Linked DNA regions of Homo sapiens. The protein of the gene in region 1 interacts with the protein of each later gene in a biochemical or structural test. Each region holds a gene or a part of one and is shown on either strand. Other genes may lie near its edges.

The links.
Region 2: the proteins of DDX6 (region 1) and DCP1A form a complex in vitro, tested with the Homo sapiens proteins (one study listed by BioGRID).
Region 3: the proteins of DDX6 (region 1) and LSM14A are reported together in a solved structure, tested with the Homo sapiens proteins (one study listed by BioGRID).

The regions. Positions count from the first base shown.
Region 1 is NC_000011.10:118,756,432-118,760,185, reverse strand, and holds part of DDX6 (probable ATP-dependent RNA helicase DDX6), read left to right. Parts: intron 1-141; coding exon 142-264; intron 265-1,283; coding exon 1,284-1,412; intron 1,413-2,898; coding exon 2,899-3,015; intron 3,016-3,754.
Region 2 is NC_000003.12:53,340,875-53,344,628, reverse strand, and holds part of DCP1A (mRNA-decapping enzyme 1A), read left to right. Parts: intron 1-2,357; coding exon 2,358-2,485; intron 2,486-3,754. UniProt on the Homo sapiens protein: Necessary for the degradation of mRNAs, both in normal mRNA turnover and in nonsense-mediated mRNA decay. Removes the 7-methyl guanine cap structure from mRNA molecules, yielding a 5'-phosphorylated mRNA fragment and 7m-GDP.
Region 3 is NC_000019.10:34,217,462-34,221,215, forward strand, and holds part of LSM14A (protein LSM14 homolog A), read left to right. Parts: intron 1-1,929; coding exon 1,930-2,112; intron 2,113-2,244; coding exon 2,245-2,416; intron 2,417-3,754. UniProt on the Homo sapiens protein: Essential for formation of P-bodies, cytoplasmic structures that provide storage sites for translationally inactive mRNAs and protect them from degradation. Acts as a repressor of mRNA translation. May play a role in mitotic spindle assembly.

The DNA.
Region 1 (3,754 bases):
TTGGAGAGAATTTATTGTTTTCCACCAGGAACATTTCATGGATGCTTTTGTTGGATGATGCCTTATTCTTTGACCATGTATTAACCAAGACCTTAGACATTATTTTATTGTTTTTAAAATTGTCTTTTCTTTCTACTGCAGGCAGATAAGTTGCTGTCACAGGATTTTGTGCAGATAATGGAGGATATTATTCTCACGCTACCTAAAAACAGGCAGATTTTACTATATTCCGCTACTTTCCCTCTTAGTGTACAGAAGTTCATGGTGAGTATAAATCTGTACTTGGAATCAGTGCCATCCTGTGACCTTTGAGTATGCTTTTATTTGTAATTACATCTTCATATCTGTGAATATACTTTATGCTAATTATTTCAAGCCTTTGGCTCTTTCTTCAGTTGATCAATTAAAGATTTGTTTTACGTAAATTAACTGACTTTTTAAGAAGGTTGTAATAGTAACTTAATTAAATTCCTCATCTTTCACTTAGTTTTTGGTGTCATGATGACATAGCCATTGGTGCTAGCTGAATTGATTCCGGTATTATTCTATATACAAAACAGAGCTTGAGTATCCTAAACTGAAATCCAAAATACTGCAGAATTTGAAACCTTTTGAGCCACGAACATGATGCTAAAAGGAAATGTTCTTTGGATTTTGAATTTTCAAATTAAGGATGCTCAGTCACTAAGTGTAATGCACATATTCCAAAATTAGAAAAAATTTAAAACCTGAAACACTTCTGTTCCTAAGCATTTTGGGTAAGGAATACTCAACCTGTAGTAACTTAGCTGCATTTTTGAGATCTTATATCTTAATTTATTTCTATCGGGTCGGGCATGGTGGCTCATGCCTGTAATCCCAGCACTTTGGGGGGCCGAGGCGGGCAGATCACAAGGTCAGGAGTTCGAGACCAGCCTGGGCAACATGGTGAAACCCCGTCTCTACTAAAAATACAAAAATTAGTCTGTTATGGCAGTGCATGCCTGCATTCCCAGCTACTCGGGAGGCCGAGGCAGGAGAATCACTTGAACCCGGGAGGTGGAGGTTGCAGGGAGCAGAGATCGTGCCACTACACTCCAGCCTGGGTGACAGAGCAAGATTTTGTCTCAGGGTGGCAGGGGGGAAATTCTGTAATGACAGATCATATATTTTGTTTTGAAGAGAGTTGCGTCCCTTACAGCAAGAGTTTATCGGACAGAAACGTATAGGGTATATTTTGAATTTGAGATGAACTCTGCTTTCATTTAAGACGACGACTCATCTTTTTCCCGCTCCCCCCCCAGAATTCCCATTTGCAGAAACCCTATGAGATTAACCTGATGGAGGAACTAACTCTGAAGGGAGTAACCCAGTACTACGCATATGTAACTGAGCGCCAAAAAGTACACTGCCTCAACACACTTTTCTCCAGGGTAAGAAGTAGGCTTCTGCTGTTGAATATTATCTCTCGAGTCCCAGTAAAACAGATGATTTCATCAATTTTCCCACCGTCTTCACTGTATAAAAGTTCGTAGTGTTTCTGGCTTGGCACGGTGGCTCATGCCTCCCAGCACTTTGGAGGCTGAGGCAGGCAGATCACGAGGTCAGGAGTTTGAGACCAGCCTGGCCAACATGGTGAAACCCCATCTCTACTACAAAATACAAAAAAATTGGGCATGGTGGCGTGTGCCCATAATCCCAGCTACTTGGGAGGCCGAGGCAGGAGAATTGCTTGAACCCAGGAGGCGGAGGCTGCAGTGAGCTGAGATTGCACCATTGCACTCCAGCTCTGGGCGACAGAGCAAGACTCCGTCTTGGGAAGAAAAAAAAAAAGATTAAAAAATAATTCATAGTGTTTCCTAAAAGGCAGGTTTAGTTGTTGACCTAAAGTTGATACTAAATGATTAACCAAGTCACAGATACACTTTTGAATAGTTTCTGAAATACTTTGACCTTAACTAGGGTTAATCCTCATTATTCACATATTCTGTATTTGTGAATTTGCTTAGTCACTAGAATTTATTTGTAACTCCGGAATTAATACTCAAGGTAGTTCAGCAGTCATTTGTGGACGTGTACAGTGTGGCAAAGAGTTTAAGTCACCTGACATGCACATTCCCAGCTGAGGTCGAAGAAAGCAATCTCTGTCCTCTTGTTTAGCTCTCATACTGTGAACAAGGGTCCTTTTCACAGTCTGCCATGTTTTTCAAGTTTTTGTTGCTGATTTCACAGTTTTAATTGGCCCCTACACATGGTGCTGAAGTGCTGCCCAATGCTGGTGGCATTGGTTGTGAGTATATTAAAGAAGGTATTCTTGGCTGGGCACAGTAGCTCATACCTGTAATCCCAGCACTTTGGGAAGCCGAAGTGGGCAGATCACCTGAGGTCAAGAGTTCAAGACCAGCCTGACCAACAGGCTGAAACCCTGTCTCTACTAAAAATACAAAAGTTAGCCAGGCATTGTGGTGGGTGCCTGTAATCCCAGCTACTCAAGAGGCTGAGGCTGGAGAATTGTTTGAACCCAGGAGGCAGCTGTTGCAGTGAGCTGAGATTGCACCATTGCACTCCAGCCTGGACAACAAGAGTGAAACTCCATTTCACAAAAAAAAAATAAAATAAAATATTTTTAAATGGAAACACATAAAACATAACTACTTTGAATCAGATAATCAATTGTATTACTCTTGTTGACAGTTATGTGGCCCTTAAGAAATATACTCTAATACGGTAAATCTTAGATATTATTATCTTCCATCTATTATTTACAATTTTTACAATTTACCATCTCTCTCATATCATGAGATTCTAAGTTTTAGACCATGTTAATGTTTCTTTTTTGCTGGTTCGTGTTTTCAAGATTTGGCAAACCAAATGAAGGTTTTTTTTATTTTTCTCATACTTATTTTTTTCTGTGCTCAGCTTCAGATAAACCAGTCGATCATTTTCTGTAACTCCTCTCAGCGAGTTGAATTGCTAGCCAAGAAGATTTCTCAACTGGGTTATTCTTGCTTCTATATTCATGCTAAAATGAGGCAGGTGAGTATAAAACTAGAACTTGCACAAATTTAATAAGAAATCTCTTTCTTTATTTTGTTTTAATGTTCTTTTAAATGTCCTGAGTTTAAGAATAAACTGTTCCTTAGTAGCCAAAGGACCTTTCATTTTGACCTCCCTCAGGTTCAATTTTCTAGCAATAAAATAGGGATAATAGTACATATTCATAACTTACAAGGTTGTTAGGAAAATTAAGATAAATGTTTAAATGAGTACTTTGGAAGCTGTCAGGCATGATACAAATGTAAAATTTTATTCTTCCCTTCCTTTCCATGTTTAATTCTCTGTTTAATACAGTAAATAGCCACATGTGGCAATTTAAATCAGTTAAAATTAAAATAAAAAGTCAGTTTCTCAATCACAGCCACATTTCAAGTGCTCAGTTAGGCACCTGTTGCTACTGGATAGTGTATTGGAATTGGAAGTACAGACACAAATATTTCCTTTATTATAGAAGTTTTACTGGACAGCACTGCTCTGGATTTTTAAATATGGCCCCTCAGCTGGCTGATTTTTCTTTTTTTCTTTACTGTTTGCCTTTAGAAAAAGATACAATATCTAAATTTCAGAATTTGATTTAGCAAAAAATAATTTAAAACTGTAACAAAAATGACTTTTTTGTTAACTACATTATGAAATTTCGTAAGTAAACAGTTTCTGTAGACGAAGATATCAAGAACTTAACTCATTTGGTTTTGAAAGCAGCTTAATATCATGGATC
Region 2 (3,754 bases), on another chromosome or scaffold:
CTTCCTACCCCCATATTAGAAAGAAAAAGAAAGATATATATTTGGGGAAAAGACAATACATAGACTGGCTCTGTAAAATAATGTTATTGAGAGGTCGATCCCTCTGTTCTTTCATTACTACATGAGTGGTTGTCTTTTATGACTGGTTCTGTCCTCTTTCCCAACCCACAGAAGTTCTGGATTATGTACAGTGTCTTATTTGAGAGTTCTTTAGAAAGCTTGGATTATTCATGATGGCGTATTTTTTATTTTTGACTTATTCAAAAATTCATTATCTTTAAGATTGGTTTGCAAATTGCAACTTTTTTGTTAGGCAGCTTTTGGGGCCTAAAGACAACTGACAGTATATGATAGTCATGGGGTACTTGTTTTCCTGGATTCCTCTAAGGTCTTAACTCTTACAAGGGCAGGTTCCTTCCCTTGTTTTCTAAAGCTTAGGGAGTCAGCAGGAGTTATTACTGATATCTGGTCTTTTCCCTTTTTTTTTTGTATTGAGTTGCTTCATAAGGATTGCCTTTCTCCATTGATGCCAATTTAAAAGAATTTGTCAAATACTCTTCTAAATTTTGATACAAAGCTTTGAGATCTCGTCTAAATGCACTCATTTTTTTCTTCTTTTAAGTGTAATTCTTTGATATTTGTACACCAAGCTCTTTTTTCTTAGACACTTTCTTTGTTCCCTGCTATTCATCTTTCTGCTTTTAAAAAGGAAGGGATCGGCCGGGTGCAGTGGCTCACGCCTGTAATCCCAGCACTTTGGGAGGCCGAGGTGGGCGGATCACGAGGTCAGGAGATCAAGACCATCCTGGCTAACACGGTGAAACCCTGTCTCTACTAAAAATACAAAAAATTAGCTGGGCATGGTGGCAGGCACCTGTAGTCCCAGCTACTTGAGAGGCTGAGGCAGGAGAATATCGTGAACCCAGGAGGCGGAGCTTGCAGTGAGCCGAGGTCGTGCCACTGCACTCCAGCCTGGGTGACAGAGCGAGACTCCCTCTCATAAAAAATAAATAAATTAATAGGAAAGGATCTTTACCCTCACTCCCTTCATTACTCTTCATTAGCAATATAAATCTCTAGAAACTCTGTTATTAGAACCTTAGTTTCTATGATATTTGGTAAAAGTACTTTACTGGCTTTATTGTTATCATACAGAGGCACTGATTGTAGAAAGTAGGAGATTTAGTGTAGTGGGTGGCTGGATTTAATACAATTCACGGAGGCTTATATGGTACTGATTCTAATTAAAGGAGACGCAAGAAACTGTGTTTGGAAAATGTGAGACTATTTTGCGTACCTTGGATAAAGGTATACCAGGATGTCAGACTGTCACTTTGCAGCTATTACTTCATATAGTAGAAGCTTGGATTTGGAGTCAAAAAACCTGAAACTGAATCCTAGTTATATTATTTGTAACTCATTATTTGTGTGACCTCAGGCACAGGCCTTATCATTCAAAGCTTGTCTCCTAATCTATAGAATAGTGTTCTGTTAACACCCCGGGTATATCGTAGAGAAACAAATGAAAAACGGTGAAGTGTTAGGTACATGTGAAGAGTAAAGGATCATGTACCGAATCCCTCTGATATGGGAACCAAGGATGTTTCCTATTGTAGGATTCAAGGCATTTTCCGTCTAACTCAGGAGCGCTATGTAAATATCTATTTGTTGCAAGAAAAACATTATTGTAATGATGGGCAGCCATTATAGCCAATCCAATTGAATGATATTTCATTCAGCAACTGTGTGTCTATCTTGGGATATATGTATGAAAAAAGTAAGACAAAAGCTCCATTTGCATGGGGCTTACATCCTAGTGGGGGGAGGACAATAAATACTAAAAATAAGTGGTATGGATAAAAGAGGAAGGTTAGAGATATTGAGCTTGGGAGCATTAAAAAGGATAGTTCAAGTAGGCCTCATGAAAAAGGTGACATCTGAACAAAGGCTTGGAGGAGATGAGATAGCTGTGCAGCTTCTGGGGCAGTAATCCAGGAAGAGGTTTTTAGGTAGAAGCACACACGCAGAGAGAGTGGCAAGGAGCCCGGTGTGGCTGGAGAGTAGGAGCTGGAGAAGAGCCATAGGAAATGAAGTCAGAGTGGGGAGTATATCAGGTGGGGCCTTGGTGGCCTCAGTAAGGACTTTGGCCTTTACTCTGAGAGACTGTCTTTGGAGACTTCTCGTCAGAGGAGGAGTATGATCTGACTTAAATTTTTTGTTTACAGATGTAAGTGCTGATAATATTGTATAATGTTCTAATGCATTCTTTTTTGAAATGAAAATAAAGTACATAGTAGATAACATTTCTACAGATTAAATGGTAACTACATATTTTTTTTTCTTCTATTAAATCTAAGGTCAGCTTCCCCTTACCATGGTTTTACCATTGTGAATCGACTAAATATGCACAATCTAGTTGAACCAGTGAATAAAGATTTGGAATTTCAGCTCCATGAACCATTTCTTCTGTATAGAAATGCAAGCTGTGAGTATATCTGTTTTATTATAGTTATTACATTTAAAATTGAGTGACTTTAGTTTCTATCAATCCATTATTTAGGAAGTTTCAAATTACAAAACAAAATATGGTCTCTACTTAATGATTATAAATGAGTCTGTTGGAAAGATCAAACCTTTTAAACTGGGCTCTGAGGCCAGAGGTGGTGGCTCATGCCTGTAATCCCAGCACTTTGGGAGGCCGAGGAGGGCAGATCACTTGAGGTCAGGAGTTCGAGACCAGCCAGGCCAACATGGTGAAACCCCGTATCTACTAAAAATACAGAAAAAAATTAGCCGGGCTTGGTGGCAGGCGCCTGTAATCACTTGAACCTGGGAGGTGGAGGTTGCAGTGAGCTGAGATCGCGCCACTGTACTCCAGCCTGGGCAACAGAATGAGACTGTGTCTCAAAAAAATAAATAAATAAACTGGGCTCTGAAACTGGAAACATTCTTTTGTATATAATTTAGTTTACTATTTCATTTAATAGCACTACATTTCTGTTGTCGGTTTATTAAAATAAGGTTTATGCCTTTGTTTTTTTGCAGCTGTGGACTATCAGCTGCCCATGTCCCTAAGCAACAGAACTTAGTTTGGGACACACAGGATGGGAACAGATACAGATAATTCTTTCCACAAAGAAAGTATTATTATTACTATTATTATTTTCTTTTTTTTGAGACGGAGTCTTGCTCTGTTGCCCAGGCTGGAGTGCAGTGGTGTGATCTAGGCTCATGCAAGCTCTGCCTCCCGGATTCATGCCCTTCTCCTGGCTCGGCCTCCCAAGTAGCTGGGACTACAGGCACCCGCCACCACGCCTGGCTAATTTTTTTGTATTTTTGGTAGAGAAGGGGTTTCACCGTGTTAGCCAGGATGGTCTTGATCTCCTGACCTTGTGATCTGCCTGCCTCGGCCTCCCAAAATGCTGGGATTATAGGCATGAGCCACCACGCCCGGCCAGAAAATATTATTTTTGCCCAGAATAGTGGTGATGGGTTTTTTTTTTTAAGATATTTATTACTTTTTCTACTTTATTTTGTCTGAATATGTTTCTAAGTAAGGTTTTTCTATCTGTTTATTTAATTGAGTGTCTACTGGTTACCAGCACTGAGCCAAGAGCTGTGGTGCTTTAATGTTAACGATACAGTTACCTATGTGGTGTAAGCAGGCAGTTAAGTCAACTGAGACTCAGAGATGCATAACTATTACCCTGTTGGAGAGTTAGGATTATGACTATTCTTCTGCTTTTTAGTCCAG
Region 3 (3,754 bases), on another chromosome or scaffold:
TAAATTAAAAAGGGAATGTATAATCTACCTTATTTAGAAAATGATTGAAAAATGATCTTTCACTTAATTTTAGAAATCTAGATATGATATTTTTAGATGTATATGTACTCTTCTCTACATTTATATATATATATATTTTTATATCCCCCCCCCCCGTGTTTTTTTTTTTTTTTTTTTTTTTTTTGAGACAGAGTCAACCTCTGTCACCCAGGCTGGAGTGCAGTGGGGCACGATCTCAGCTCACTGCAACCTCCACCGCCCGGGTTCATGCCATTCTCCTGCCTCACCCTCCTGAGTAGCTGGGACTACATATGCCATGGAATACAGAATTTTGTTTAATTTGACTCATTATATTTTACCCTTTTTATTCAGAAAAAGAGAGAGCTCCCCTCCCAAAATAAAATAACTGCCATACTATCTTTCATTGCCCTTCAAAACTCACCCCACCAAAGAGGTTCATTAACAGAACAGTGCATATTCTTCCCGATTTTTTTTGTAGATTTTACAGACACAGACATCTATACCCAAAACCTTTTTTTTTTTTTTTTTTTTTCCCCCTGGAGATAGAATCTCGCTCTGTCACCCAGGCTGGAGTGTAGTGGTGCGATCTCTGCTCACTGCAGCCTTTGCCTCCCGGGTTCAAGCCATTCTCCTGCCTCAGCCTCCTGGGTAGGTGGGATTACAGGCATACGCCACCACGCCTGGCTAATGTTTCTGTATTTTTAGTAGAGATGGGGTTTCACCTTGTTGGTCAGGCTGGTCTCGAGCTCCTGACCTCGTGATCCGCCCGCCCCGGCCTCCCAAAGTGCTGGGGTTACAGGCGTGAGCCACCGCGCCTGGCCCCAAAATATTTTTTTTTAAGACAGAAGGATCATGGTGTAATTCTGGCTTGTGGCCGAGGCATTTTTAATAGTAGAGGTGAATGTTTCAAACATCCTACTTATCTAGATTTATGTCTGGATATGCTGCTGTGGGGTTTTGTGGTTTGTTTTCTCAAACCCAGGCAGTTTGCCAAACCTCAGCAAACAGCGCAAACCTATCTTGTTACCCTGTAGTCACTTCTCATCCTTGTCAGTATGTGTGGAGCATTTCACGCAATTGTGATCATTAAACTCATACTGGTTTCTGTTCTGCGTTTTTCAGTTAACATCAAATATTCTTCCTCTGTTTTTTTCTTGTTAGTCATTTTTCTTGTGTTGGATATTTGGGTTCCCACGTTTTTCACTATAAATTATGCTGCTTTGTATTGCTTTATCATGTCTCTTATGATTGGCTGAAATTTTACTGTGTTATAGAGGAGAGAGAATGTGTAGATACAGGAAGGCTTGAATAATATAGAGCCATCTGGAGAGACACAGTAAAGATGGAGTAGGAAGTGTTTTGAGTCAGTAAGGATTGGTGCTTGTCTGTTTTTTATCTGTGATGTGGAAATAACACCTATTTTCTTGCAATTTGTGCCGATTAGTGTTTATTTTTCTTACTATAAATCTTGGTTCCTGTTATTCTTTCCATAAAAGGCTTTCTACATTTTGAGAACCCACTGTGTGTCTGGCACTTCAGTTTGCCGGTGTTGGGGATATAGCAGTAAGGAAAACAAAGCCCCTGACCTCAAGGAGCATACATTAATTTAGTGCAGAAGCCTCCACACTTGCCTGGCTGTATACTCTGTCAGTAACACATGTGAGTGTGGACTCCATAAATACAAATGTTTAGAAATTTTGTGTGAGCTATTCTCAGTCTACATATTAAATATTAGTGAAACTTAATTTTTTATTTTGTATAAAAAATACAAATACAATAAAATATATAGAGAGACCTGTAAGCATTTCTGTTGTTGACTGTTGAATCTAAAGAGCACAATAGCAACATCTGTGCTAAACCAGCTATTACATATTGAATGTCCTTTGTATATATTCTTTATTATCATAGCTCCAGGTGCTCCTTCAGCTCCAAGGAGAGGGCGTGGGGGTCATCGGGGTGGCAGGGGAAGATTTGGTATTCGGCGAGATGGGCCAATGAAATTTGAGAAAGACTTTGACTTTGAAAGTGCAAATGCACAATTCAACAAGGAAGAGATTGACAGAGAGTTTCATAATAAACTTAAATTAAAAGGTAAGCTTTGATTTTTCTTTTCAGAAAATAATCTTATTTGATCTGTGAATTACAGATGTTTCTCAGATTAGGTGTTTTTATGTAATTCAGATTAGCTGTCTTGACTTTTCTGATATGTGCTTTTGTTCTTAGAAGATAAACTTGAGAAACAGGAGAAGCCTGTAAATGGTGAAGATAAAGGAGACTCAGGAGTTGATACCCAAAACAGTGAAGGAAATGCCGATGAAGAAGATCCACTTGGACCTAATTGCTATTATGACAAAACTAAATCCTTCTTTGATAATATTTCTTGTGATGACAATAGGTACAGTTTTTAAGCTGTTCTTTTATCTTATGATATTGATTGAAGTGTAAAATGGTTTCATGTAAATTCACGAGGTTTAATGAATACTACCATAATTGTTTTGTTTTGTTTTGAGACAGTCTTACTCTGTTACTCAGGCTGGAGAGCAGCAGTGCAGTCACAGCTCACTGTAGTCTCAAGCTCCTGACCTCAAGCAATCCTCCCATCTCAGCCTCAGTAAAGGGGACTACAGTTGTACACCACCCCACCCGGCTAATTTTTTTCATTTTTTTGTAGAGATGGGGGTCTCGCTATGTTGCCCAGGCTAATCGTGAACTCCTGGCCTCAAGATCAGCCTCCCAAAGTACTAGGATTACAGGCGTGAGCCACCACACCTGGCCATAATTGATTTTTTAATGTTTTATTTGCTAAAAGAAAATATATACTAAAGTTCTAAATTATTCATTCAAAAGAAGAAATAACCATATACTTTTGTTTAAGGATATATTCATATTTGAATATTAGCAATTAAAACAAGCATTTAGGTAATGTCTAAGTAGGACCTTTTTTTCACCCCTGTATGTTACAGTTCAAATGAAGCCAGAACCGAAGTGCTAATCTACTTTGAAGTTTGCTGGTACCATAAAACTGCCAGATTGTAGTAAATGTGGGTCCAGAAAATTGGCAAATTATTGAGAGGTTAATTAAAGGACCCAGTGTGAGGAACTAACAGTTCTAGAGGTTCTCCTGCCCAATCCAAATTGTCATTGTCCTTGTCCTTTTCCTGGCTGAAGTTTGGTGCCCTCTGGTGGCAGTTGTTTGCTTCAATATAAACATGGATGGACATAATTCTGAGTCCCACGATTGGCTGGATGACAGCAGCAATAATTCAGATACTTCTTGGGTTACTTGGTATCGGGTCCATAGATTGGGCCAGGAACATAATGGGGACCTAAGGGCCCACCTTCCATCTCCTAGCTTCCCAAGACAAGGCCTCCCTGTCTGACTTTACCTTCTTTTCCCTTGGGGCTGAGTGGAAAGCGAAGTCAATTACCAATCTCATTATATCTGAATTTCCATTATTTTGGAGCTGTTACTATGTTTATCAGGTGTATTTGCAAGAAACTAATGTCAGTCATGTGTTCACATGAAGTTTAACAGAATATTACAGGAACATATTGAACTCATATGCCATGAACAACTCGTGATAACTTAGATAAGATGCTTTTTTTTTTTTTTTTTTGAGATGGAGTTTCGCTCTTGTCACCCAGACTGTAGTGCAGTGGCTCGATCTCGACTCACTGCAACCTCCACCTCCCAGGTTCAGGTGATTCTCCTGCCTCAACCCCCCAAGTAGCT